Homo sapiens: one gene and its partners. The protein of the gene in region 1 purifies or fractionates together with the protein of each later gene. This does not show direct contact. Each region holds a gene or a part of one and is shown in the gene's direction. Other genes may lie near its edges. The genes, in order: SEMA7A, CLCC1, ATP11C and TMEM214.

What was found.
Region 2: the proteins of SEMA7A (region 1) and CLCC1 purify together in Homo sapiens (affinity purification with mass spectrometry; 2 studies listed by BioGRID and IntAct, with this or other methods). This does not show direct contact.
Region 3: the proteins of SEMA7A (region 1) and ATP11C purify together in Homo sapiens (affinity purification with mass spectrometry; 2 studies listed by BioGRID and IntAct, with this or other methods). This does not show direct contact.
Region 4: the proteins of SEMA7A (region 1) and TMEM214 purify together in Homo sapiens (affinity purification with mass spectrometry; 2 studies listed by BioGRID and IntAct, with this or other methods). This does not show direct contact.

Annotation. Positions count from the first base shown.
Region 1 is NC_000015.10:74,430,945-74,438,363, reverse strand, and holds the start of SEMA7A (semaphorin-7A isoform 1 preproprotein), read left to right. Parts: upstream 1-4,405; 5' UTR 4,406-4,445; coding exon 4,446-4,623; intron 4,624-4,659; exon of another isoform or gene 4,660-4,774; intron 4,775-7,419. UniProt on the Homo sapiens protein: Plays an important role in integrin-mediated signaling and functions both in regulating cell migration and immune responses.
Region 2 is NC_000001.11:108,960,469-108,967,532, reverse strand, and holds the start of CLCC1 (chloride channel CLIC-like protein 1 isoform 1 precursor), read left to right. Parts: upstream 1-4,048; 5' UTR 4,049-4,172; intron 4,173-5,063; 5' UTR 5,064-5,224; intron 5,225-7,064. UniProt on the Homo sapiens protein: Anion-selective channel with Ca(2+)-dependent and voltage-independent gating. Permeable to small monovalent anions with selectivity for bromide > chloride > nitrate > fluoride.
Region 3 is NC_000023.11:139,783,041-139,790,063, reverse strand, and holds part of ATP11C (phospholipid-transporting ATPase IG), read left to right. Parts: intron 1-575; coding exon 576-737; intron 738-1,720; coding exon 1,721-1,872; intron 1,873-2,819; coding exon 2,820-2,891; intron 2,892-4,764; coding exon 4,765-4,838; intron 4,839-6,796; coding exon 6,797-6,900; intron 6,901-7,023. UniProt on the Homo sapiens protein: Catalytic component of a P4-ATPase flippase complex which catalyzes the hydrolysis of ATP coupled to the transport of aminophospholipids, phosphatidylserines (PS) and phosphatidylethanolamines (PE), from the outer to the inner leaflet of the plasma membrane.
Region 4 is NC_000002.12:27,028,764-27,035,973, forward strand, and holds the start of TMEM214 (transmembrane protein 214), read left to right. Parts: upstream 1-4,201; 5' UTR 4,202-4,252; coding exon 4,253-4,403; intron 4,404-5,303; coding exon 5,304-5,503; intron 5,504-6,371; coding exon 6,372-6,522; intron 6,523-6,830; coding exon 6,831-6,965; intron 6,966-7,206; coding exon 7,207-7,210. UniProt on the Homo sapiens protein: Critical mediator, in cooperation with CASP4, of endoplasmic reticulum-stress induced apoptosis. Required or the activation of CASP4 following endoplasmic reticulum stress.

The DNA of each region.
Region 1 (7,419 bases):
TGCCTGACATGGTCTGCCAAGAGTTGGGCCAGGTATAGTGACTGTCGTGCCTGTGCCTGTGAGATAGTCACAGTGGGCACATGGTATGTTGGGGGTCCCAGATATGGGCCCCAGACCTGTTTTTATTTGCCCATATCCATCCTCCTTAACTTTTGAATTATTTGCCAATATTTTAAAAGAGAGAGTTTCAACAAAGAGTCAATTTTCTTTTCTTTTTTTTGATGGAGTCTCGCCCTGTCACCCAGGCTGGAGTGCAATGGCGCAATCTCAGCTCACTGCAACCTCCACCTCCCAGGTTCAAGTGATTCTCCTGCCTCAGCCTCCCAAGTAGCTGGGATTACAGTTGCGTGCCACCATGCCCGGCTAATGTTTACATTTTTAGTAGAAATGGGGTTTCACCATTTTGGCCAGGCTGGTCTCGAACTCCTGACCTTGTCAGATAAAAATGCATGTAGAATGATTAGGACAGAAATCATTGACCTTGTGATCCACCCACCTCGGTCTCCCAAAGTTCTGGGATTACAGCCGTGAGCCACCACCCCTGGCCTCTTTTTTCTTTTCTTTTCTTTTTTTTTTTTTTGAGACAGAGTTTCACTCTTGTGTCCCATGCTGGAGTGCAGTGGTGCGATCTTGGTTCACTGCAACCTCCGCCTCCTGGGTTTAAGTGATTTTCCTGCCTCAGCCTCCCAAGTAGCTGGAATTACAGGCGCTCGCTACCATGCCCGGCTAATTTTTGTATTTTTTAGTAGAGATGGGGTTTCACCATATTGTGCAGGCTGATCTTGAACTCCTGACCTCAGGTGATCCACCTGCCTTGGCCTCCCAAAGTGCTGGGATTACAGGCATGAGCCACCGTGCCCAGCCCTCAATTTTCAGCTTCTCTTGAAAATCATACTACCTTTCACTACTGGGTTTACTTCTTCATGGTTCCATGGGCTGGAGCTGAGTCGAAATTGCCTTATAGACAGCACAGGGTTCTGCAGACCCCAGCCCACCCACTCCCCTCGTTCTCATCAGTTCCAAGTCTCTGCCCCCTGCAATAGGTAGTAATGGTGGTAGGCAATAGGAATTGTTGCTGCTGTTAGTAGCCAGGAGGTCTGAATGGCCACCAAGCTCTGAGGCCTCAAAGAAGGGGTGGGATCTAGCATGGAGGGGGCTGTTGGGGATTGAATGCCCTCTGAGAGCTACTTCTAATCCTAAGAATTGGGATTCTTGGATCATCGTATCTGTGAAAGGAAGTGAACTGTGTGTGGGTGACCTCACGTCTGCATATGTTATCTCCTCACGGAATCCTTCTATCTCCCACAGGCCTCTTGTTTGAGGTGGGTCACTCCTGTGAAGGCCATGTGTAGCCATGGAATCAGGGCTGAGGAGGAGGTCAGATAACTCTGGAGAATGGAAGGATGAGTTAAGTTGGACCCTGAAAGGTGAGAGGCTTTAGTTGGAATGTTGGGGGGATTGCCCGGGGCTTCTGCCACTGCTTCAAGACCATGAATCTCAGGTCTGTGTGTATCCATTTCTTTCATTCCAAAAGGAGCCTTCTTGGATTGGGCTGTGCCTCAGCTGTCCATGGGGCTCAGGAAGTGATCCTTCTCAAGGTATTTTTCTTATCGATAGAAGCCCTGCATCATTTCTTCCTCCCTCCCCTGAATGTGGAATCATGGAGAAGGGAGGGACAAGAATGTGCCTCCCCATCAGACGTGTCAGCATCCACATGTGTTGCTTCCTCTGCTGGTCCACTTCCCATCACTGGCTGTGAGTGGGAATTGTGCCCCTGTTCTTGGTCCAGGCTCAAGAGCCAGCCTTGGCCTCCAATGAGGCAGGCAGGCCTCTGACACCACCTATACCATTCTGACTTGATTTTCCTATGCTGCCTGAGGCAGGAAAGTCCATGCCTAAACTCTGGTCATAGTGCCTGCCCCACAGTCTAGCTGCCTTTCCCTTTATAAAGTTATTGCCTCAAGTCATGGGCTTAGTTCTCTCCTCCCCTGGCTGCCTGCAGCCAACCGAGAGAGTGGGCTGCCATCTCGCCTGGCCCTTTGTCCCCAGGTTGGCTGGCTTGTGGGGAGGATGGTCTTAAGTACTACTTCCTTCCCCCCTACCCCCCAGTCTGGAAAAAAAATTATCTGGCATCTACCCCAGTTTCCATCTGCTACTCTGTTGATTGGGAGATTGAGCCCATTCCCTGGTCTGCCCTCCTACTCAGCACCTGGTGACCTGGGCCCTATCTAGGTCCTTCTGGGGATGGTTTGGACCCAGACTTCAGCCACAGACAGGAGGCAGCAGTGCCAGGGTACATCACACAGAGAGAAGTCAAGGGTGTGGGTCCTTGAGAAACCACCTGAGTTTCAATCCGTCCTGCCTCTAGTTGTGCGATCCTGGCACTTCACATCCCTTGTCTGTGCCTTGATTTCTTCATTTGTAAAGGGAGGTGACTAATAGCTCCTATCTCATAGGAGTGCGAAGATTGAATGAGTTGGGAGAGGCTATGAGATGGCACAGCACATAGGAACCACAGTGTTAGCAATTGTTATTGCAGTCAGAAAACCCATCTTCGTTCTACCATTTACCGGTTGACCTCGGGCAGGTCCGTCCTTGTCCCTCCCTGTACCTCAGTTTTCTTCTCTGCAGTGGAGTTACGCTCCCTCCCTCAGTGAGAGGAAGAGAGTGGAGGACTGGCAGAGATGAGGTAGGTGAATGTGGGTTATGTGTTGTGAGTTGCCATGCACATGGGCAGTGTTATCATTGATTTTGAATCCATTTGAATTCTTAGTTCCAAAAGGCAGAGACAGGTGATTTCTTAGTTTGCCCTAGCTTTGCATAGAGAGGACAGACACTGAGGGCAATACCTGTCTAGCAGGTGAAACCGAATGTCCATCTTAGAGGCTGGCCTGGGCCAGGCTCCACTGCTGGCTTCAGGGCCACAGGCTTAGGTGCAGGCCTGAGGAGGAGCTCTTAGACTGTCCACAGCCTCCCTCTCTGGGGCAGTGTGCCCCTGTGTATCAGGAGGCTGTTGGCTTCACCCAGTGGGCCAGGAACCTCACTCTGCACTGTCTCTGGAGGTACCTTGAGTTTACCTTCCTGGCCTGCTGGGGTGCCTCAGGACTCTGAGGGAAGAAGGAGGGGACAACTGGAAGCAAAATGTAGAATGGTAAAGCCAAACTTCTTGGTAGCAAAACTTTCCTGGTTCCAGGAGGTAAAAACAACAACCAAATGGTCCTGGCCCCATGGAGCAGGGCAGAGGGCAGAGGGCAGCCAGCCCACCGCCTTTGCTGGTGTCTGCAGTGCGTGAATCGTGTCTAGGTCTGTGAGTTCTGAAGGTTGGATGTTCACCTCTACTCCTTCCTCGGCCTGTCTCCTCTCAGTGCAGCTAGACATCCAGTAAACACTAGATAAGTACTTACTGAGCTGGGTGGATTTTCCATTCATGGTTCCCTGGGGCACAAGTGGAAGTGGTAGGTCTGGGCCCTGTCTGGTCTAGAGAGAGGAGACCCTTTTACAAAGGGCAGGCACGTAGTTCTGAGAGGAGGAGCTGATGGCAGAGCTGGCTGGACTGCTCAGGTAACTGCAGAGGGTCTGGGCCTGGACCCCCCAAGGGAGTCCCCACTGAATGGTCAGGTTGCCTGAGATAGCTGAGCCCTAGGCACTTTGCGGGCAGAGATCCCCTTAAGCTGCTTTGACCCTCCCTCCCCCACAGTGAGTGGGGCACGGGGGATGCTCCCCTCTCTACTTGGGGAAGGGGCCTTCCTAATTATATCCCCCTCCACTCACATGGAAATGAGTTTGGATTTTCTGAGCGTACACCAGCTGGCTTGGGGGGAGGCAGCCCAGAAGGCTGCTGGCTGGGAAAGGGAGGAGAAAGGAGAGGGAGGGGAAGGAGCCAGGCCAAGATGAAAAATTTCCAGTGTTCTCCCAGGCAAAGCAACAGCGGGTCCCTGAGTGCTCCCCACATATCATCGTTGTGCCTGCTGGTAGGCTCAGCAGGGAGCCGTGTCCACTTAGGCGAACGCATCCTCCGAGGACCATAGTCCTCAGGGTGCGAACCACTTAGCTGGCCATAGCAAGGTTGTTGGGTGTTGGACTCCTCTGCGCCCTTGGAGAGAGGTCCTCCACGACTTCTACGCCAATCTTTTTACGGGGTGCGGGGAGTGGAACTGAGGCCCAGAGAGGGGATAGGGCCTGCCGCCCCTGGCAGAAGACCACAAGTCTGGCTTGTCCGCAGCTGGGCTTTCCCCGTAGAGTTGCCCGGGAGAGGGTGGCGAAGGTTCCCCCAGCAGTTCCGCTCTCGCTCAGGAAAGCCAGTGAGGCGAGAAAAGGCTGCGAGGGGCGGGGGGAGGGGCGGGGTGGGGTCAGCGCTGGCTCCGCCTCCTGGCGCTTGGGTCTGCCTGCGGCCGGGCGCTGGCTCAGTCTCGGCTGATTGCCGCTGTCGCTCCCGGGGCCACGGGATGACGCCTCCTCCGCCCGGACGTGCCGCCCCCAGCGCACCGCGCGCCCGCGTCCCTGGCCCGCCGGCTCGGTTGGGGCTTCCGCTGCGGCTGCGGCTGCTGCTGCTGCTCTGGGCGGCCGCCGCCTCCGCCCAGGGCCACCTAAGGAGCGGACCCCGCATCTTCGCCGTCTGGAAAGGTAGGCGGCGCCGCGCGGCCGGTCAGGCGCGGGATCAGACGCTGCGCGGGGCGGGTGCGGAGTGTGCTGCACCCGGAGGGAGTGCGTGCGCGCAGCTCTGCGGGTCCCGGGCTGTCCCCGCGCTGTCCCCGCGTGGAGCGTGTGGGTTTGGGTGAGTGTGTGTGAGTGTACACGCTGGCACACCAGAGCCGGCTGTAACGCTGCGGCGAGCGAGCGGCGGGGGCCGGAGCCCCGGCTAAGTCGCACCAAGTCCCTGGCAGCCAGGAGCCGCAACGCCCGGGCGCCAGGGGAGGGGGCGGGCCCCTCTCTCGGCCCCGAGCCACTCTGGGTCCTCTGGCTCGGGGGCTTCGGCGGAGGACCTTTCCCCGCCTGGGACCCCAACCCGGGTACCCTCCTTTTGAGCTGCGGGCTCTGCTGGCGCGCGGGGCGCAGGCTGGGCCGGCAAGGGGGGCGCGGACCCCTTGCCGCCGCCGCCGCGCTTCGGCAGCGGGAACAAAGACCCCGCCGCCTGCCCCCGCCCCCGCCCCGGCCCGGAGCTCGGGCCAGGCAAGGGGGTGGGCATCCTGCAGCGAGCGGCGGGACATGGTGCGGTGCGGCGGCTTGGGGTACCAGGGCGCTGCCTCAGCAATGCCGGGACCGGCCGCTCCCCCCTTGCCCGCACGTGGCAGTTGTCACCAGAAATCGGCTCCAGCGTTGGGGGGCAGTGCCCGTTGGGTGGGGCACGGCCGTTGGGACCCCCAGGCGGTGGATCTAGGGCGGGGGTGCAGCCTTTAGGCCAGGGTAGATAATAAGAACCTGGGGGACTGGAGTCTCCCCCAGGGCACCTCAGTTTAGACCCTGTACTATGGGACAGAAAGCCGGTTAGGCGGGGGTTTGAGGCTTTCTGCCGCGAGGAACTGATCTCCCCTCCCCTGCATTGCACACAAATGCCTCCCCGCCCCCAGTCCGATTCGGCTCTGTCCCCAAATTTGGCGTGTCTGCGGCCCCCCTGTCGTGATGGTGGGGGACTCGCAGTGGGGGCTGGGGGAACTGGTCGGGTCTGGCCCCACCGGGAGCCTTTTGATGCCTTTGGCAGTTTGCAGGGATTGCGGGAGTCTGAGCATTATCTGGGGCAGGTATTATTAGCAGAGGGGAAAAAAAACCATACACAAAACGAGTGGCCCGAACTGCCGCAGTAGCTGAGGGAATGTGACTTGCCCAAGGTCACTGAGCAGTGTGGGAGCCCAGGTGCAGGCAGGGGCTCTGATCTGGCACAGGACCAGTCCAGGTTCTGGGTTAGGGAGGGGAGAAGGATTTAGGTGGTTCAGGGACCATGAATGAGGTGCTCTGGGGACCAGCTCGGCTACCCAGCCTGAGGTGCTCCTGGAGGAAGCCGAGCAGTGCTGCTAGAGCTCCGGCCGCCTGTACATGGAGGAGGCCTGCACACCCCTCTGCCATCCCAGCTCCAGCCCAAGCTTCCTTTGCCCTCCCAGCAGCTTTGCCTTCCCTCAGTCTCCTTGGCTGTCTTGGACATCATAGCGTGTGGGCACTCTGGAGGGGACAAATGGCCACATCTGAGTGTTCTGGAATCTTTCCCTCCATCAAACCCCTTGCATTTTGACTCTGTTTGCCTGTCCCAAAGTCTTCCCATGACCCCCCACCCCCACCCCACTTAATGCACACCCACTTCTTAGCACTTAATGCATACATCCCATCCTGGGCACTTAGTTCCCACCCTGAGGCTATTTAAAGTTGCTTTCAGTCCTCTTACCCACTTTTCGAAGCTCCCAGCACAGCTCCATGGCCTACCCCCCCGCCCGCAGTTCACTGCTGTAGCCACACTGGCTGTGCCCTCTGCTTAGTAATGCACTGTTGAGCCCCGCTGGCTGGGGTCTGCCAACCGTTCACCAGTCTTGTCCAACGACAGTCTGTGGTCTCCTTCACCAGTGCCAGGTGCCCCACTGGCCAGACAGGCCCTGCCATTCACCTGCCCCCCACCCCCAGGGCCACCAGCTGGTGATGGTGTGCCCGACTGACAGCTGCCTCCTGTCTCCTGTGGGGTGACACATGGCAATCGGACAGGAATGGGCTTGGGTAGGACAAACCCAGGAACAGGGTAAGAGGGGGTCTTTCTGGAAGCCTAGAGCTCTGTCTACCAGTGGTGGGTGGGAGTATGGTGGTATCCAGGAATGACAAAATCAGGGATGGTGGTGGTTCTGGAGCCATTTCTCTATGAGGCATAGATGGGGGTTTTAGTTTTGAGTCAGGACAGCTGTGGGGACTGGAATAGGTATGGAAAGTTCTTTATTTTCTGCTGCTTGGATCCCCAAGTTCTAGAGAAAGATTAAAGCAGGGAACTCTGAGAGGGGCCCAGCCTGCACTGATCAGGGAGATTGCTGCCTCTGCAGCTTGATGAAAGTCTGGCACAGCGTAGCTCAGGCCAGGGAGAGAGATGGGCCATCATGTACCTGCTGGGTGTCCTTGAGCTCCACACTTGTCTTTGACCCTTAGAGCCTGCCAGAGCAAGAAAGGCTGTAGGGATTGTCCCCCAAGGGCTGTCACTGACACATGGGCCAGTCAAGGATGTGCATGTGTGGTCCTGATCTTCCTGTAAGCAGGAACTGTAAGGGAGTAGATTGCAGGTGAGGGCTGGGGCTTAGCAGGAGGTTGGCATGCGTTTGTAAGCTGTGCACCCCTCTTCCATTTTATCAGTGGTTGGAGGAGCTAAAGAAGGCTTGGAACCCCAAGGTCAGAGGTGAACCAGCCTGTCCATGGGGAAACAGAACCCATATCCCCAGTCTCAACCTGCCCGGCTGG
Region 2 (7,064 bases), on another chromosome or scaffold:
AGAAAATGTTTAAATTTACCTATAGCCTGGAAGCCCCTGCTTTGAGTTGTCCCGGCTTTCTAAGCCAAACCAATGTATTTGTTAAATGTATTTGATTGATGTCTCATGCCTCCCTAAAATATGTAAAACTAATCTGTACCCTGACCACCTTGGGCACATGTTCTCAGGACCCCGAGGGCTGTATCACGGGCCATGGTCACTCATATTTGGCTCAGAATAAATCTCTTCAAATATTTTACAGAGTTTGACTCTTTTAGTCAACAATGGTGCAACCCTGTCTTAAAAAAAAAAAAAAAAAAAAGATCAGCCGGCTGTGGTGGCATGTGCCTGTAATCTCAGCTACTCGAGAGGCTGAGGCAGGAGAATCGCTTGAATGCGGGAGGTGGAGGTTGCAGTGAGTCAAGATTGTGCCACTGCACTCCAGCCTGGGCGACAGAGCAAGACTCCCTCTCAAAATAATAAGCACCAGAAATTGTTATATTTGCTTCAGTAAATAGCTGGTTACATATGTCCTTTTTTGTTTGTCTCCACATGTCTTCTGCATGGGGTGACTAGGTTCTTTGAGGTTCACATAAAAGAGAAAATGAGAGGACTGAAGTATCTATACTCTTGGGGTCCATCTCATTTGGCAGTGCAAGGAAGGGGAATTGGGGTGGATGGGTAGTGCAGAGGTTCTTAATTATTCCCAGGGAGGACATTTAGAGGTCTGTTCCAATTTTATGTGTGTGTGTGTGTGTGTGTGTGTGTGTGTGTGTGTGTGTGTGTTGCCTCAAGTTGAGAGATTATTTCTATTTTTAAAATGTTTAATTTTTCTATTGCATTGTGTTATATTGACAAAGTCTTGCTCACTATAGCCTAGAACTCCTGTGCTCAAATGATCCTCCTGCCTCACTCAGCCTCCCGAGTAGCTAGGACTACAGGCACATGCCACAATGTGGGGCTAATTTTTTTTATAGAGATGGGTGTCTCACTATGTTGCCTAGGCTGGTCTCAAACTCCTGGCCTCTTAACAGTCCTCCCATCTTGGTCACCCAAAATGCTAGCATTACAGGCATGAGACACCACATCTGCCCCCAAATTTTATTTTTAAAATGTTTACTTTTCCAAAATTGTAATGTCGACGGAGTCAAACTCTGTAAAATATTTGAAGAGATTTATTCTGAGCCAAATTTAAGTGACCATGGCCCATGACATAGCCTCAGGAGATCCTGAGAAGATGTGCCCAAGGTGTTTGGGCTACAGCATGGTTTTATATACATTTTAGGGAGCGTAAGACATCAATCAATACATGTTAAATATACATTGGTTCAGTTCAGAAAGATGGGACAACTCAGAGGTGGGGGTGGGGGGATGGACCTGCTGTCACATTGGTATCTTACTGCTACAAAGTGTGTCAGTGTTAAGGTCTCTGTTTTTTTTTTTTTTCCTGAGACAGAGTCTCGCTTTGTCACCCAGGCTGGAGTGCAATGGCATGATCTCAGCTCACTGCAACACCCACCTTCCAGGTTCAAGCGATTCTCCTGCCTCAGCCTCCCAAGTAGCTGGCATTACGGGCCCACCGCTTTGCCTGCCTAATTTTTGTGATTTTACTAGAGACAGGGTTTCACCATGTTGGCCAGGCTGGTCTTGAACTCCTGCCCTTAAGTGATTCACCTGCCTTGGCATCCCAAAGGGCTGAGATTACAGGCATGAGCCACTGCAACTGGCCTCAGGTTTACTTTAGAATGCCCTTGGCTGAGAGGATGGGCCTATTCAGTTGGTTGGGGGGCTTAGAATTTTATTTTCGTTTTATAGTAAGAAGCCAAAGGACACAACAGAGTGAAAAGGCAACCCACTAAGAGGGAGAAGATGGGGCCGGGCATGGTGGCTCATGCCTGTAATCCCAACACTTTGGAAGGCTGTGGCAGGAGGATCACTTGAACCCAGGAGTTTGACACCAGCCTGGGCAATACAGGGAGACCCTGTCTCTAAAAAAAAAAAGAAAAGAAAAAGTGGGAGAAGATATTTGCAAATCCTATCTGATAAGGTGGTTAATATCCAGAATATATAAGGAACCAAAACACAACAAAAACCCATTAAAAAATGGGCAAAGCCAGGAGTTCAAGGCTGCAGTGGGCCATGATCATGACACTGCACTTCAGCCTGGGTGACAAAGCGAGACCCTGTCTCTTAACAAAACAAAATAAAACAAACAAAACAAATGGGTAAAGGACTTGAATAGACATTTCTCCAACAAACATATACAAATGGCATGACCAATAAGCACAAGAAAAGATGCTCAACATCACTGGTCATTAGCGAAAGGCAAATCAAGACCACAGTGAGATACCTCACACCTATTAAGATGGCTACTATACAAAAATAAAAAGATGTCAGTGGAGATGTGGGGAAATTGGAACTTGTGCACTCTTGGAGGGAATGTAAAATGTTGCAGCCACTATGGAAAAGAGAATGGCAGTTCCGCCGGGCGCAGTGGCTCATGCGTGTAATCCCAGCACTTTGGCAGGTCGAGGTGGGTGGATAACGAGGTCAGGAGTTCGAGACCAGCCTGGTCAACATAGTGAAACCCCATCTCTACTAAAAATACAAAAATTAGCCAGGCATGGTGGCAAACGCCTGTAGTCACAGCTACTCAAGAGGCTGAGGCAGGAGAATCGCTTGAACCCGGGAGGCAGAGGTTGTGGTGAGCCGAGATCGTACCACTGCACTCCAGCCTGGGCAACAAGAGTGAAACTCCATCTCAAAAAAAAAAAAAGTACGGCAGATCCTCAAAAAATTAAAAATAGAATTACTACATAATCCAGCAATTCCACTTGTGTATATATATTCAGGAGTTGAAAGCAACAGATATTTGAACATCTGTGTGTATACCCAAAAGGGTTAAAAAACAGATATTTGTATATCCATGTTTACAGTATTATTTCACAGTAGCCAAAAGTGGAAACAACCTGTTATCCATTAACAGATGACTGAATGAACTGGTATATACATAAAATGGAATACTATTCAGCCTTAAAAGAAATTCTGACACGTTACCACATGGATGAACCTTGAGGACATTATGGTAAGTGAAATCAGTTACAAAAAGACAAATGCTGTATGAGTCCTTATATGAAATACCTAGAGTAGTCAAATTCATAAAGACAGAAAGAATGGTAGTCGCTGGGAAGGAGGGAGGGGAAGAATGAGGCGTTACCACTTACTGGGTACAGAGTTTCAGTTTTGCAAGATGAGTGCTGGAGATGGATGGTGGTAATGGTTGCATAACAATGTGAATGTATCTAATACCACTGAATTGTACCTTTAAAAATGGTTAAGATAGTAAATTTTACCATCTTCACAGTTTCCCGAGATTGCAAGGCCAGCAGTTAAAGACAAAAACAAAACTACTTCCAACTGCCCTACAGTGTGCAGACCTTTCCCTTGTCCTGCCCTGAGTAGAACTACAGTTGTCATTCGTGATCCTCCCTTTAAAAAATTATGCTTGTGGCTAGGCGCGGTGGCTTACACCTGTAATCCCAGCATTTTGGGAGGCCGAGGCGGGCGGATCACCTGAGGTCAGGAGTTCGAGACCAGCCTAGCCAACATGGTGAAACCCTGTCTCTGCTAAAAATACACATTAGCTGGATGTGGTGGTGCGCGCTTGTAGTCCCAGCTGCTCGGGAGGCTGAGAGAGGAGAATTGCTTGAACCCGGGAGGCAGAGGTTGCAGTGAGCCGAGCCGAGATCGCGCCACTGCACTCCAGCCTGGGCAACACTGTGAGACTCTGCCTCAAAAAAAAAAAAATCATGCTTGCGTTTCATGGCGAATGTTACACATTCAAACTTATCAAATATATTAATAGTAAGAAAATAGGTTTCCTATCCGTTGTATATATTTGAGTTCCAGGCGAGATTTCCTTCGCAGAAAGAGTTCCGCAGATGAAAAGTAAAAGAAAATCCGCGGCGAAAATAACCCGCGCGCAGAGGCCGGTCCCGCTACTAGCCCCGCCCAATCAACGAGGCCAATCAGCGGCCCGCAACGGGGGAGGGACACGCAGCCGTCAGCCGAACAATTCGATGACGAGGCCCAGGAAGCACGCTGAAACCCTGGGCGGCGGCAAGCTGTGCGACCTCTTCTGCGGCCGGCCTGGGCAGGTGTCTTCCTCGAGAGGCAGGCAGGGGATCCCGGACGTGAGTCCGTGCAGTTGGGTGTGTTGTGCGGCGGGTGGGGCGGGTTACCCGCCGTTACGCCCTGGCGGGTCCAGCGGACTCGCGGCGCAGACGCTGGGGAGGCCGCAGGCGCGACCCGGGGCGGGGACCGTGCTAGCTGCGTGCGTCCGCTGCGGCCTGTGGGTGCCCCGGGCTCCTACCTCAGCTCCCGCGCCGGCGGCTGCCTGTCCGCCGCGGTTGCGCGCGTTCCGGGGAGGTGCTTGGCCCAGAGAGCGGCCTACGGAGAAGGCACAGCGAGGGCAAAGCGAGACCTGAGCGCACGTTGAATTCTGTTGGCTTTGGTTATCTCTGAAAACTTTAAGCATAATTTGAATAAATGCTGTCAGCAGAATAGCTCGGATTTAGTTGTAGTTAATTTTCTAAAACTTCAAATCTGTGAATTAACACAGTTAACAACAACAACAAAAACGGACACAAAACAACCTCCAAAATGGATTTTTTTTTTTTTTTTGAGACGGAGTCTTGCTGTGTCACCCAGGCTGGAGTGCGGTGGTGCTATCTCCGCTCACGGCAACCTCCGCCTTCCGGGTTCCAGCGATTCTCCTGCCTCAGCCACCTGAGTAGATGGGACCACAGGTGCGCGCCACCAGGCCCGGCTAATTTGTAAATTTTATTTGTAGAGAAGGGGTCTCCCTGTGTTGTCCAGGCTTGTCTCTGACTCCTGGGCTCAAAGGATCTTCCCATCTTGGCCTCCCAAAGTGCTGGGATTACAAGCGTGAGCCATTGCGCCTGGCTCCAAATCTGATTTGAGTGTAAAAAGTTAGACACACCATAAGCTGTAGGTTTATTACTGGGTGGTGAAAAACAATTCAGGTTTTCTTTATAATAGTGATTATGAAGTGTTCTTCCCAGACTAGCTTTATCGTCATCTGGGAAATTGTTAAAAATGCAAATTCGCAAGTTTGAGAGCCATGGTTCCAAGAAACTGCATAAGCATACGAAATAAGTTGCAGCCTCCCGACTTATACCCTGGTACTTCTAGTCTAAAACAGGATTTGACTCTACTAATCCAGGTTAGTCTTGCCTTTCCCATTACTCATGTGCTTTCGTTGAAACCAAAGACTTTTTCTTTTGTGCCCATTTCTACTCACTGCCTGGCCGTCTGCACGACGATCTGTGTTTCCTGGTAGTTCTCCAGTCTAGTAGCTACTATAAACTACTCTCCCTATTTCCCGCTCTGTGGAGATGTCGTTCCAACAGGTCCTCTCCACTCTAAGACCCTATCCTCTCAGAGAAGCCCCTGAGAGCCATTAGTACTTTTGCCCTGGAGAGGCAGTTTAGGTAGAGCCAGTCTGGGTTCTACCACTTACTAGCTTGGTGGTCTTAGGCAAGTTACTTTGTGTGATCTGTAAAATGAAGATGAGTGAAGATAAGAGTACTACTTCCAGTAGTTTTGTGAGGATTAAATTAATGTAACAGTGCTTAGCACATAGTAACAAAATATTAGCTACTTTTTTTTTTTTAGACGGAGTTTTGCTCTTGTTGCCCAGGCTGGAGTGCAATGGCGCGATCTCGGCTCACCGCAACCTGCACTCTCTGGGTTCAAGCAATTCTCCTGCCCCAGCCTCCCGAGTAGCTGGGATTACAGGCATGCGCCACCACGCCCTGCTACTTTTGTATTTTTAGTAGAGACAGGGTTTCTCCATGGTGGTCAGGCTGGGCTGGAGCTCCCAACCTCAGGTGATGCGCCCGCCTTGGCCTCCCAAGGTGCTGGGATTACAAGCGTGAGCCACCGTGCCCGGCCTTTAGCTACTATTATACATATTATAATTTAAAAATTATTAGTACCGAAGCCTGAGACAGGAGAGAAATGGTAAAAATAGTAGGGACTGCGGGAGAGAGAAAGAGTAGTGTCCCCTGACAAGTACTAGAATGACATAGGTGCCACCATTAAACGAAACTAGCTAGGATGGTTACTTTCGATTAACACTTTGCTACTCAAGAGTGTGGTCTGCGGCATCACCAGGAGCTTGTTAGAAGTGGAGATCTCAGACCTACCTCAGATTTACTGAATCAGAATCGTTTTTTTTTTTTTTTAACAAACTCTTCAGCAGGTTTAGATGTAGCTTTGTTTGGAGGAAGTGTGAGATTCGTTTTAGGATTTCTCAAGGAGTTCCAGCCTTCAATCAGTGACCATGGGGATCTGGCAGGAGGGCTTGAATTTCTAGCTGATTCTTCTATTCTGTCTTACCCTCCTGTCTTCCATCATTTCTGCATTGCTAATCTCTATCCCTGGAGAAATCTATGGAACTGCTGGTTATTACTGTAGAAAGTAACATAGTTGCCAATAGTACGACTTTGTGGATGTCACAGTCAAAACTCAACTGCCTGGCTGGCACAGTGGCTCACCTGTAATCCCAGCACTTTGGGAAGACAAGGCGGCGGGCAGGGGGATCCTTTGAGCTCAGGAGTTCGGGACTAGCCTGGGCAACATAGCAAGACCCTGTCTCTATAAAAAAGAAAAAAAAATCTCAACTGCTTGACAGGCTTTTTATTCACTTCCCTTTGTATAATGCCTCCTGTAGTACCTTTTTTCCCCTCCAAATCTCCGTTTCCCCCATCCTAACCTCCTCACAGTGTTAGAAATGCAAATTACTCTTAATTTCTCTGTCCACTTCATATCATATTATAATATGAAATCTGTCAGTTTCTCTTTTTACTTTAGAAATTTTGTCTTCATCCATCTTCATTCATTTCTATTTATGGAGTATATAACCTCATTGCCTATGAAGAACCCTTCCCGTAACCTTAATTTCATGCACTCCCATCTTGGAGCCTCTCTCCAGTTTACACACTCCCTTTGTCACCTACTTCTTAACCACTTAGAGAATTAGGCTTCTCACTGTCATTCTC
Region 3 (7,023 bases), on another chromosome or scaffold:
TTTGATAAAATAGTCACTTTTTTTTTTTTTTCCTGAGACAGAGTCTCACTCTATCACCCAGGTTGGAGTATAGTGATGTGATCTCAGCTCACTGCAACCTTTGTCTCCTGGATTCAAGCAATTCTTGTGCCTCAGCCTCCCAAGTAGCTGGGATTTCAGGTGTGTGCCACCACACCCAGCTAATTTTTGTATTTCTAGTAGAGACGGGGTTTCACCATGTTGGCCAGGCTGGTCTTGAACTCCTGAGCTCAAGCAATCCTCCTGCCTCAGCCTCCCAAAGTGCTGGGACTACAGGCATAAGCCACCGTGCCTGGCCAATAGTCACATTTTTTTCTATTCATCTTTTACATTTGAGTAGATCTACCTTAGACATGTGATAGCATTTTGGTGTCTTTAAAAATACTCATTTATTCCTCATTTCTTTGGTAATATTGTCTCTGTAATTCCCTGACATTTGACAAGAAGTCTTAGAAGGGGTGATTTCCTATGGATATGAAAATAGCTTTGCGTTACAGCAAACTAAAAATTAGTCACACTGAAGAAACTAACAATATATGTTTGTGTCCTTGTTTTAGGTGGATTATGTATTTACAGATAAGACTGGAACACTCACTGAAAACAGCATGGAATTCATTGAATGCTGCATAGATGGCCACAAATATAAAGGTGTAACTCAAGAGGTTGATGGATTATCTCAAACTGATGGAACTTTAACATATTTTGACAAAGTAGATAAGGTGCATTTGCATTATTGTTTTATATAAGAAACCAATCTGTGTATGCATGTTAACATTCCATAGTAGAAAATAATTTTTAGGTGGACACATGACATAGACTTTTGTGTTTTTGTTTTTTTTTTTTGAGATGGAGTCTCACTCTGTTGCCCAGGCTGGAGTACGGTGGCATGATCTCAGCTCACTGCAACCTCCGCTTCCCAGGTTCAAGCGATTCTCCTGCCTCAGCCTCCCGAGTAGCTGGGATTACAGGCGCCTGCCACCATGCCTGGCTAATTTTTTTGTATTTTTAGTAGAAACGGAGTTTCACCATGTTGGTCAGGCTGGTCTCAAACTCCTGACCTCAGGTAATCCACCACCCTCCGTCCCCCAAAGTGCTGGGATTACAGGCATGAGCCACTGTGCCCAGTGACTTTAGAATAACTATTGTTGGATTCACCTTTCTTGTTTTACTGACACTTCTGAAATTTGTAAATGAGTAGAATTTACAAGTAAAGAGAATTGTGGGAAATGACATTTGGGTAAAAGCTTGCTTGTCTGTATGATCATAATTTTTTGTGCTTTGTCTTTTAAAATGTAAGCTCCTCCAAGAATGATGTCTGTTCAAATGATTAAAGTCTCAGGAGTGTCTAGGCATTAAATTAACCAGAGTCTCCCTACACTTGAGCTATTGCTAGATTGTGAATTAGATACTGAATGAAGTTTTTTAGGCCATGAAGAAGTCACTGCTTTGGCTTAGGTGGTGCCACAATAACCTTAATGAGTTAACACAGCCTATAGGGTATGCTAGCTGAGAACCAGGAACTCTTATTAGGTACTAGGAGAATATATAGCAGATTTGAGTGTTAAGAATTTATACGTATCTGCTACTAAGTTTGTTAGAAGTTACAACATTCTCTCACATTAATATATTTTCTCCGTTCACTGCCTAGTTACCGGGTGATCAAATTAAAAATAATAATCATTATTTTGTTGCTGTTCCACAGAATCGAGAAGAGCTGTTTCTACGTGCCTTGTGTTTATGTCATACTGTAGAAATCAAAACAAACGATGCTGTTGATGGAGCTACAGAATCAGCTGAATTAACCTATATCTCCTCTTCACCAGATGAAATAGCTTTGGTGAAAGGAGCTAAAAGGTAAAGTATACTTTCTTATACTTCTCCTAAGAAAGTGAAATCACAGGAGGACAGAAGTTATTTGTTTTTTTCCGTTTGCTTCAGTGACCTTAGCACATACATCTCCTATTATTTAATAAAAAACACAACTGCTTTAGCCAAAAATTTGTGGAAAATTCCCACACCTAACCAGTTAAGACTAAAAAGAAAATAGTTACAGGTAGGTATTACTTGCCTTACTATTTATGCATGCCAGCCAGAAGTCTGAATGTTCATACTATGTTTTGCAAATAACATAACAGTGGCCACTTTTTGTACAACACATGTTATTTCTGAGGTGCTCCCAGCAATTTTGACATCATTTGAGAACCGAAAGTCCAGTTTTACCCATGAGGTTCAAGATAATTAAGTGGCTCAAAGGTCACCCAGTGTGTTAGCCGTAGAATCAGAAACCCAAATTGTCTCTCCCTTGGTTACAATAATTGTGGCTGGGCATTGACTTTCTCTGTTATCAACTTATCCAGGAAAAGAAAGTACAGTTATATGTTGAGATCATATGAAAGAGAAGAAAAGCATAAACAAGCATGAGTTACCCCATTGAAAGTAATCATTCTAGACCAGGTGCGGTGGCTCACGCCTGTAATCCCAGCACTTTGGGAGGCCAAGGCGGGTGGATCACCTGAGGTCAGGAGTTCAAGACCAGCCTGGCCAACATGGTGAAACTCTGTCTCTACTAAAAATACAAAAATCAGCCGGGTGTGGTGACACACACCTGTAATCTCAGCTACTCAGGAGGTTGAGGCAGGAGAATCGCTTGAAACTGGGAGGTGAAGGTTGCAGTGAGCCGAGATCGCGCCACTGCACTCCAGCCTGGGCAACAGAGCGAGACTCTGTCTCAAAAAAAATAATAATAAAAAAATTAATCATTCTTTAGAGATACACAAGGTCTTTTTTATTGTTTTTGATAGGTACGGGTTCACATTTTTAGGAAATCGAAATGGATATATGAGAGTAGAGAACCAAAGAAAAGAAATAGAAGAGTAAGTAGCTCTGTGTTTGATGTTTGTCATTTCTTAACCCCATAGTCAAATTTAAGTGGATTCAGGCAGGGCAGCAAAGGAAATGATGCCACTAAAAATACAGGACCCTGCTCTCCCAGTTCAGAGTTTTATGTAAATATAGTTGGGGTAGAAGCCATGTTACATAGAATTGCAGAAACTGGAGTTTGAGGTGGAAATTCCAATCTGGTTCACATCTGGGTCCAGTAGCCAGAATGAGAGTTTGCCTGGAATGTTTCTCAAATTTAGATGCCATTTCAGGTCTCTAACACATGCTACAGGAAAAATCAGTGAATATATGTGAAACCTTCTGCTATCTAGTGTCCAAGCAATCACTCTGGGATTGCAAGCCCAGGCAATAAAGGCAGCTTTGCTGTAAACCAGAAGCCTTGTTTGGTTCGGAATGTTCAGGTGTGAGCCTCGGGGCAAGTACTCTGATGCTCCAGTGTCTTCACATTTCCTCTTTTGCCACAAAGACCCTAATGAACAAAGCCACCTTATCTTAATGGTGGATTTTAATTAGGCTCTGTGATTAATTTGAATTTCCTCATCTGAACTTGAAATATAATTATGTTATCTGACTTTCATTCTGGCCCCTAGGATCTCCTGAGACCCATCTCAGAAACCTGTAATATGTTTACAGGTACTTGGGTAATGCACCCTTTTGGAGAGAGATTCATAGAAGCCCAGAGGAAGGTTCTTGGTCTGACTGACAGGGACCCAGGGTCATTGTCAGAGTTTAGATTCTAGCCCATCTGCAACAGTGCCCACATCTGGCCAACAGCAAACCAGATGCCATGTTAGATGTCTTATACATATACTCCCGCAAGACTAATGACCCCCTCACTCCCACCAAAACAAGCTATGTAGTAAATACTTTTTTTAAAAAATACTAGTTGTTTATTTTCAAGGAAATATTTCCTCTCACTTTTTCTAATAACCAACTCTTATTTTAACTCTTCTGTGTCTCTCCATTGATTAGTTCAGCCATCCACACACACATTTGACCAGTCTCATCATGTCATTCCACTGTTTAAACCCTTTTATTGGCTTTCTTTTGCTCTTACAATACAATCCCAAATTCCAGAAATGGCTCACAAAGATGTGTTTCCAGCCCCTGCTTACCTTTCTTGCTTTATCTCTTACTATTCCCCTATTGATGAGTTTTTTGGGCATTGGTGAACTACTTAAAGTCTTCCATGGGCCATGTGCTCTCATGCTGCCGTGCTCATTCCCTCTACTCAGAATGCCATGGCCCCCTTTCTTCATCATATTACCCTTGCAGAACCCAGCTCAGGCATGTCCTCTTCCAGGAAACCTCCTTTCAGATGACTTCCTTCTGTGTTCTTATATCTTCCCTGTAAGTGCCTTTATTACAGTATTTGAGAAACTAGAAGGGTAGTTATCTCATTATGCTCTGTCTCCCTTATCATATGGTGACCCGCATAAGGGAAGGGACTCAGGCAGATTCACCTCTATTCCCCAGCACCTAGCACTGTGCCTGGCACTCCATACATAAATGCTGCTAAAATAATTGGCAGAGTGGGACTGTTTCTAGACCCCTCCAAATATGGCTTGGTGGGACAGCTCTTTATCTTCCATTTTTATGTGGTCATTCTCCTTACCATTTTAAGTAATATACTGAGGGGCTATAAATACCCCTTAACTAACACTGGTGTCCTCTGACAGCATGTTCTATGTTCAGAGAAATTCTGAGACAAAGGAAAGTACCAGTTGTGCACACAACCAGTGCTATCTGTTGATTTAAGATGTTTAAATATCTTAACATATTTCTGTTGTGCTTTATTTTTCTCAGTATATTCTAGGTTTTTTACTTTGCTCATTTCTCTTAAAGATATGAACTTCTTCACACCTTAAACTTTGATGCTGTCCGGCGACGTATGAGTGTAATTGTGAAGACTCAAGAAGGTACATGTCTGAAAAGCTTGAATTTTTCTCTTTGTTGATTTGTAGGCTTATTGGTTGATTCACTCTTTCAGGAAAGAGAATCATTTCATGTAGTAGTGTAGGATTAGTGAAAGTCATGCAAAGCAGTAGCTTTTGCATATGCTTTCATGTATTTTTTTAAGCACAGATGTTCTGTTTACCAAATTGTTAGTGACAGAACCCTTGTTATGACAGGGTGTGCCTTTTCTTGGTAGCAGAACCATATCCCTCTGCCTTGGGTGTTCGAACAGGAACTGAAAGGATGACTTTTATATGGTTCAGGGTACTGACCAGTCTACCAGTAATGTTTACATGCAGCCACCCAGCATAGTTGGATGGTTTGGGATTACTAGCAGCAGAATCCTTGAGTATAGGGAGTTGCTTGTTATCCCTCACTGACCTTCCTGGTTCCCCTACTGCTTGACACTCCCTGGAAACAGGTGAGGTAGAGAGGACTAAGGGCCTGGTTTCTGGGAAATGGCATTGCAGTTTCACTCCAGAGCTCAGGTTCTTTGTTGAGCAGAGTAAAGCTTGCCCTTTGCAGGGGAACTGGTACTGTAATCCTGGGCTCCCTCATGTCTTTGGAGGCACCATGGTGGTTTGCCTTCTGCTCAGATTCTGCAAGACCCATGGGCGAGCAATCCTGCTTTATTCGAAGGCTCTCAGATACGTGTGTGTGTGGTGTGCCGAGGTGGTTTGTTTTCTAAAAATTTTTGATTTATTTCCCAGTAATTTACGTTTTACTATTAAATTTTCTAAATTCCTTAATGTCAGAATGGGAGGATACAGACAGATCCTTGGGGGAACATATCCCACTTAATTCATACTTTGTGGTGTGATTGCAAAGTCATGAAATTGATTTTAATAAGTGACCATGGAGTTTGTTTTGTGAATTTTAAAATACACTTTGGATGTGTAAGAATAAATGAAAAAAAAAACACAACATTTCAAATACTTGCTATTCTTATGTGTGCATGTCCACATGTTCTACAGCAAATGGTGAAATGTCTGTGGAACTGGTCTACAAAGGTCATTGACCTCAGAGCTACACTTTTTAATTTGTTGACCTCGGTTGTTTCCCTTATAAGGATAAAGTGTCTGTCTTAGTGCACAACTGTGAATATTTCCTGGGTGTGTGAAGTGATCTAAAGCTGCAATTATACCAGCATTCTACAAAGCTATTCTCATCAGTAAAAACTATCAAGCCATTGTTTTAGAAGCTAGTTAATATAGTTTATTCAAAATTATTTCAGCTTGTTTGAGCTTGAGCTTTCTTCTTGACATCTGTAGATGCCATATGTGTGCTCTAGGCCATGGCTTCACTGCATTTTTTTTTTTTTAAGACACGGTATTACTCTGTCATCTAGGCTGGAGTGGCAAGATTATAGCTCACTGCAGCCTTGACATCCTGGGCTCAAGCAATCCTTCCACCTCAGCATCCAGCGTAGTTGGGTCTATAGGTGTGTACCACCATGCCTGGCTAATTTTTTAATTTTTAGTAGAGTCAGGGTCTCCCTGTGTTGCCCAGGCTGGTCTTGAACTCCTGAGCTTAAGTGATCCTCCCACTTCAGCCTCCCACAATGCTGGGATTACAGGCATGAGCCACTGCACCTGGCATACATTTTCAGAAGAAATTCAGATGCAGCTCCTTGACACAAGCCCAGCCCTCCATGAATTGGTGGGAGGAAGTATATTTTAACAGAGGTGCCTATTGTAAACTCTGGCTTATTAATTGTGTTCATAATGACCTTGAAGAGGTGGTACATGCCTTTCTGACAGACTGAAGGCCAAGATTTCTCATTCCATTTAGGTGAGTATTGCAAGGTGTGCTCAGAATATACAACACTTGGGTGAGAGAGACCGCTTTAAAAGTTACTCTTACTAAAACCACAATACCAGCCTTAAAATTCTAAGTCAAGTACTATGGTTCTTTATTTTAGGAGACATACTTCTCTTTTGTAAAGGAGCAGACTCGGCAGTTTTTCCCAGAGTGCAAAATCATGAAATTGAGTTAACTAAAGTCCATGTGGAACGTAATGCAATGGTGAGCCTATACTCCTTCCCCCACCAATAAGTAAGCAGAGAAATGTTGAAAATGACTATGTTTATTGGATTTCTGTTTAAATGACAGTTTAAATACATTTTAGCTTATTTTTGTGGTCTATGT
Region 4 (7,210 bases), on another chromosome or scaffold:
TGAAACCCTGTCTCAAAAAAAAAAAAAAAAGAAAAAAAAGTTGCAGATGGAATTCAGGAAGTTAATCTGCTGACCTTAAAATAGGGAGAGTGTCCTGGTTTATCCAGGTGGGTCCAATGTCATCGCAAACGTTTATAAGAGTGGAAGCAGGAGGCAGAAAGGGTCAGAGTGGGCAGGGTGTGGTGGCTCATGTCTGTAATCCCACCATTTTGGGAGGCCAAGGCAGGAGGATCACTTGAGCGCAGGAGTTGGAGACTAGCCTGGACAACAGCGAGACCCCATCTTTACAAAAAATAGAAAAATTAGCCGAGCATGGTACTACATGCCTGTAGTCCCAGCTACTTGGGAGGCTGAGATGGAAGGATCATTTGAGCCCTGGAGGTCAAGGGTGCAGTGAGCCATAATCATGTCACTGCACTTCAGCCTGGGCAACAGAGCAAGATCCTGTCTCAGAAAAATAAAAGAAGAGGTCAAAGTGAAACAATGTGAGAGTGACTCACCCACTGTTGTTGGCTTTGAAGACAGAAGGGAGCCATGAACTCAGGAATGCAGGTGGCCTCTAGAAGCTGGGCAAGGCAAGGAAATGGATGCTCCCCCAAAGCCTCCAGAAAGGAACCCAGCCCTGCTGACACCTCGATTCTAGCCCAGGGAGACCTGAGTTAGACTCCTGCCCTCCAGAACTGGAAGATAACGCCCTTGTTTTAAGCCACTAAGTTTGTGGCAATTTGTTTTAGCAGCAATAGAAACGTAGTACAGTGGGTAAAACAGTGCTTCGGTGAGCTCACCCTTCTGCTTGCTCCCACACTAGACACCCATGTCCTCCTTGACCCAACATCTTTTGGGTCTTCAAACCCCACGGCGGGGCCTACCCAAGCCCACCTCCGTGGCTAGTGTCTAAGGCTGCTCTTCAAACACCCAGAACTTAAGGATGTAAAGCCACTCCCTTCTCCCCACCTCTTCCTGGTACCTCATACTAAGTGCTTCTTTCCTCTGGAACACTAAGATGGTGAACTGTAATTTTCTGTTTATACATTTGTCCCCCACACAGACTTCAAGTTCCTTACAAGCAAGTGAGCTATATCTTCCAGCTCCACCTAGCACAGGGCCTGACACAGAGAAGGTGCTTAGAAAAGGTTGCTGGATAAGTAAATGCATGATTTATATGTCCTAGATGCCAAGTTAGAACTGGTAACTTACTAGACTATTCCAATGAAAGATAGAGTCCCTCTCCCACCCTTCTGTGTGTCTCCACCATGGGGCAGCCCCCTCATTTGCCTCAATGGAAAGCCAGTTCTGTTTCTCTTCCAAAAACATGGTCTCTTCTGTGATCATACATGTGACACAGGAGGGGTCAAACAAAGAGAAGATATTGTTGTTGGTCTCCTGAGTACACCTAAACCAATGATCTGCAAAATGAATTGATTAATGATCAGTTCAAATATGGTCCTTGGCAAAGGCACTGTATCTCAGAGCTACCGGATGCAAAGTCAGCCATGGTCAGGCCTAAGGGGGCTGGAGGACAGGTAGAAGGAGGCAGCAAGATATGCTCATCTCCCACCCCCTGCCTTCCCCTACCAACACTTCACACAGCCACATTTACCCTTCCAAAAGAGTGGATTATGCCACCCTCTCACTGGTCTCCCAGGGCCTGAAGGATAAAGTCCAGATTTGGCAGGCAAGTTCCTTGGCATATGGGCTCAGATCCCTTTCCAAACTCATAAGAGGCTATTGTTGCATTGCTATAAAGAAACATCTAGACTGGGTAATTTATAAGAAAAGAAGTTTAATTGGCTCACAGTTCTGCAGACTGTATAGGAAGCATAATGCTGACATCTGCTTCTAGGGAAGCCTCAGGAAGCTTACAATCATGGCGGAAGGCAAAGGGGGAGCAGGCACATCACATGGTAAAAGCAGGAGCGAGCAAGCGAGCGAGAGAGAGAGGTGGTGGGGAGGTGCCACACACTTTTAAATGACCAGATCTCATGAGAACTGGGATCCACCATGAGGGATCCACCACCATGATCCAAACACTTCCCACCAGGCCCAACTGCCAGCGCTGGGGATTACAATTCAACATGAGACTTGGGCAGGGACAAAAATCCAAACTATATCAAACCTCATCACCTCCAAAGTCCCATCAAGCACTGTCCCATTGAACTGCTTCCAGTTTACCACCCTCTAGGCCTTTGTTTTACATCAACAGATCCACACAACTGGCATTTTCTCTCCACCCACCCTAACCCTCAGCCAGTGAACATTCAATTTTGTTTTTTGTTGTTGTTGTTGTTTTGGGTTTTTTGAGACGGAGTTTAGCTCTTGTTGCCCAGGTTGGAGTGCAGTGGCACAATCTCGGCTCACTGCAACCTCCGCCTCCAAGGTTCAAGCGATTCTCCTGCCTCAGCCTCCCAAGTAGCTGAGATTATAGGCCTGCGCCATCATACCTGGCTACTTTTTTGTATTTAGTAGAGATGGGGTTTCACCATGTTGGCCTGACTGGTTTCGAACTCCTGACCTCAGGTGATACCCACCTCGGCCTCCCGAAGTGCTGGGATTACAGGCGTGAGCCACGGCGCCCGGGGAACCAATGAAAATGCTATTTCTCAGAACCTATCTCAGCTGCCGTCTCCTTCGGGAAGCTAAACTCCTTCCTAAGGAATGCATCGCTCCCTCAGCTGTTCATCCTGTAGGAATTTGGACTCTCTTAGTTCTTATCATAATACCTCAGTATGGCAGGTAGGAATCTCATCCTCACACACAGTTGTACATGAAATAGCACATTTCCTTAATTGTGATAAGTCACTTTGATTTTATCTTCCCTCATTCTCCTCTGCTGGCATGCTTCAAGGTTCTGAAGGCTCCCAGGATACTAACACCCTCCACGTGGATGTCTGAGCAGGAACCTGTCTGCAGATGCCTCAAGTCTGGGGCTCTCCATCGCTTCCCTGACACATCTGGAACTTGGGATTGACTCTTATGGTGGGAGGCAGAGCCTGTTCTTTCTCATTGCCTGGAAGGGGAAACCCGGCCCTGGCTGTCCCAGACCCCCAGACTTTTCTCAGCCTCCCATGAGAAGAACTCAGAGGCCAGGAGCGGTGGCTCACTCCTGTAATCCCAGCACTTTGGGAGGCTGAAGAGGGTGGATCACTGAGCCCAGGAGTTTGAGATCAGCCTGGGCAACACAGCAAAACCCAGTCTCTACAAAAAATACCAAAGATTAGCCGGGGGTGGTGGTGGGTCAGGTGATCCGTGGTGGGGGATCACCTGAGCCCTAGAAGTTGAGGCTGCAGTGAGTCGTGATCGCGCCACTGAACTCCAGCCTGGGCGACAAAGCAAGATCCTGTCTCAAAAAAAAAAAAAAAAATTATTCTCCATTCTCCACCTCCTACCCCAGCTCCCCAACACTCTGCCCTTTCCTCAAGCCCCCATCCTCTTCCTTGTTCTTTGGCAATAGATTTGTATAGCCCATTAAACCCGAGGTTTAATCACTAGCAACAGTAAAGCCAGCACTTTCCTAGAAGGAAGGAAGCATTTAATCTTCAATCTCTCCCTAGATATGAGGAGCACTACTTCCCTTCCATCCTTCCAGCTCTACGAGAAAGGAAAGAAAAACAGTGGCCGGGCGCCGTGGCTCACGCCTGTAATCCCAGCACTTTGGGAGGCTGAGGGGTGGGGGTGGGGTGGGTCACTTTAGGTCAGGAGTTCGAGACCAGCCTAGCCAACATGGCGAAACCCCGTCTCTACTAAAAATACAAAAATTAGCTGGGCTTGGCAGCGGGAGCCTGTAGTCCCTGCTACTCGGGACGCTGAGGCACGAGAGTCGCTTGAACCTGGGTGGCGGAAGTTACAGTGAGCTGAGATCGCGCTACTGCACTCCAGTCTGGGCGACAGAGCGCGGCCCTGGCAATCAATCAATCAATTGATCAATAAAGGAAAGAAAAACAGAAACAGTTCTACCAAGTCTCTCAATGCCGTGGCCTTCACATCGACGCTCAATGAACGTTCTCAGAAGGGAATCTCCTCTCCTCCCGGCCTCTTCGCCTGGGCGGGGGCCGCAGGCTGCCGCGGAAGCCTCTTCCCGATGCTCTTCGCTCAGGAGAGCCCGGCCCAGGAGAGGGACTACAAGTCCCAGGCTGCCTTGCGGCGGGCGCCGGGCGCCGGGCGCGCGGTCCTGCGAGGAGACGTGGCAGAGTGCGGCGCGCTCGCGCCGGACCGGAAAGCCGGGGAAGTGGCCGAGGAGGGAGGGCTGCGAGCCATGGCGACCAAGACGGCGGGCGTGGGGCGGTGGGAGGTAGTGAAGAAGGGTCGGCGGCCTGGGGTCGGCGCCGGCGCCGGCGGCCGAGGAGGCGGCAGGAACCGCAGGGCGCTCGGGGAAGCAAACGGAGTGTGGAAATACGACCTGACCCGTGAGTACCCGCCCTGCCCCGCCGCCTACCCCAGGCCTGTCCGGCAGGGTCGCAGCGAGCGGCTCCCAGAACCTGGGCGCGAGCTCGCAGGCACATCCCCGAGCGCCACGCTTGCGTTGTCTCTTTGGAGCCTCACGGGAGGCAGACAGCTCCAGGGAAGGTTGCGGTCCTCACCTCCCAGATGAGTAAACTGAGGCCCAGTGAAGTTGGATACCTTGGCCAGGGTCATGTGTCAGAGGGGCTAGGATTCCGGTCCTCAGACTCTCAGTTCACTGCACACACTCTCCCAGCTGCCCAGGGCCCTAGCTGGTCTCTCTGGGCAGGTGTCTGAGCTTTGAAGAGGTACTGTGGATCATTATACACGGTGCCCCCTCTTTAAGTAACCAGCAGGTCATGGAGGAAGGGACAGGAGGCCCAGCAGTGGGAGAAATGACCGCCACACACTCAACACTCACCAGGAATTATAAGTGACACCTGGTTCTTCCACTGAGGAGTGGAGAAAGATTGCCACTTGTTGATTATAGAGTTGTCATGTCGGAACCAAGAGGCGTTAGGGTAGGACCAAGATGGAAAAAGCTTGTCTTCCCAGACTAGTAGCCACTCACTGAATAAGGCAAACCTCTATATCCAACCTCTCTGCTTGTTCCTACATACTCTGATTTGTCTAATGAAGAACTGCCCCATCTTTATGAAAGAGCCCATAGACTCAAGAGCTGTAATGAAAGAAGCTACCAGGAGAACAGCCTGCCCTGCTCCTTAAGCAGTCCAAGAGGAAGGGGCTTTGAGACAGGCTCTTCCCTGGAGATGAATTAGGTGGCAGTGTGGGGAAAGGGACCACTGATAGGTGAGGCCTTGGGGACTCAAGGGTGGCCTGCCTTTCTCTACCTATCTTCACCCCAGCTGCAATCCAGACCACAAGCACCCTTTATGAGCGGGGCTTTGAGAATATCATGAAGCGGCAGAATAAGGAGCAGGTCCCACCCCCTGCTGTGGAACCTAAGAAACCAGGGAACAAGAAGCAGCCAAAGAAGGTGGCAACTCCTCCCAACCAAAACCAGAAGCAGGGCCGCTTCCGCAGCCTGGAGGAAGCACTGAAAGCTGTGAGTGTGCCTAGACATGAGACGCAGAAAGAATGGGGGCTTGAGATTTAGAGAAGATGAGAGGAGGGGGAGGTGGATGGGCAGCTGAGATCCTATGGGATTTGAAACACTTTAAGGGTTGAGAGGAGTTCAGGAAAAGATGGAAACCCCAGGGGAACAGAATGCCTGCACTTAGAATAGAAAGGAAATGGAAAATTTATAGGGAAACATGGATTGGTAAGAGGAAAGCCTTGAAGACCCAGGAACACCAGGGAGGAGATGGAGAAACTGGTTATGATTCTCTGTCCTATGGAAATACTGATCTTTCATTTTCTGTCTTGTCCTCTGTTTTCCTCTTTTTTTTTTTTTTTTTTTGAGTTAGAGTCTCCCTCTGTCGCCCAGGCTGGTGTGCAGTGGTGTGATCTCAGCTCACTGCAACCTCTGTCTCCTGCCTCAGCCTCCCAAGCAGCTGGGATTACAGGCGTCTGCCACCACGCCTGGCTAATTTTTGTATTTTTAGTAGAGATGGGGTTTCACTACGTTGGCCAGGCTGGTCTTGAACTCCTGACCTCAGGTGATCCGCCCACCTTGGCCTCCCAAAGTGCTGGGATTACAGGCGTGAGCCACCGCGCCTGGCCCTCTGTTTTCCTCTTGAACATGTGGAGGGCCTGAGAGGATAGGGCCTGAGATCAGCATTTTCAGCTGTCCTGTTCCATTCTTAAAGATGTAGGTACAGCAGAATTGCAGCATTCCATGTTCTTATGCTTAAAAATGGAATCCCTTCTTCCTACTGCCACCTAGTTCAACCATTTTCCCACCCCTACCCCATTTCTTTACTCCCTCACTCACAACTCGCCATGGTGGGGGGTTGGGGGATTGTCCCTGGCAGCTGGATGTGGCAGACCTGCAGAAGGAACTGGACAAGAGCCAGAGTGTGTTCTCTGGAAACCCATCCATATGGTTGAAGGACCTGGCCAGCTATCTCAACTACAAGCTACAAGCTCCTCTAAGTGAACCCACGCTGAGCCAGCATACTCATGGTAAGTCCTTCCAGCTTCCTCAAGCTCAGACAAGTTCAAATAAATTCAAAAAGGGTGGTATAACAGATCCCAGTGCCCCACACTGTCCTGATTTCCATGGGTGATTTGGGCTGGTCTCAAATCATCGTGACTGTGAATGTTTCTGGGCCTCATTCTGTGATCCTCCCTCTGGGCCTCCTCAGAGGAAGGATCCCAGCCTCAGTGCAGGGGCCTTTGCCTCCACTCACCATTCCCAGGGAGAGCACCACAGTTCTCAGAGCTGATGGGTGTCTGGTCCTAGCACTCACATTGAGGCCTATGGGCCTTAGATTATCCCTACAGCCTGGTGAGCCGGGAGCTACGTGGGATCATCCGAGGGCTGCTGGCGAAGGCAGCAGGGTCTCTGGAGCTCTTTTTTGACCACTGTCTGTTCACCATGTTGCAAGAGCTGGATAAGACACCAGGTGAAAGGGGCACGGGAGGGATGACCATCTTGGGAGCCTCCTCCTTTTTTTCCTGCTTCCAGTACCACTCAGTGGTTCTGTTTCCAGCAGAGAAATGTGCTAACCTTAACACTTTTTGGAAAGTGTGGAGGAAGTTAGGAGTCAGTGGACCTGGGGCCTGGGCTCACCGCTGACAAATGGGAGATTTCAGGTTTGGGATGCCAAATAATGTGAGTAGGTGTGAGAATGTGTATCTCTCCAGGGGA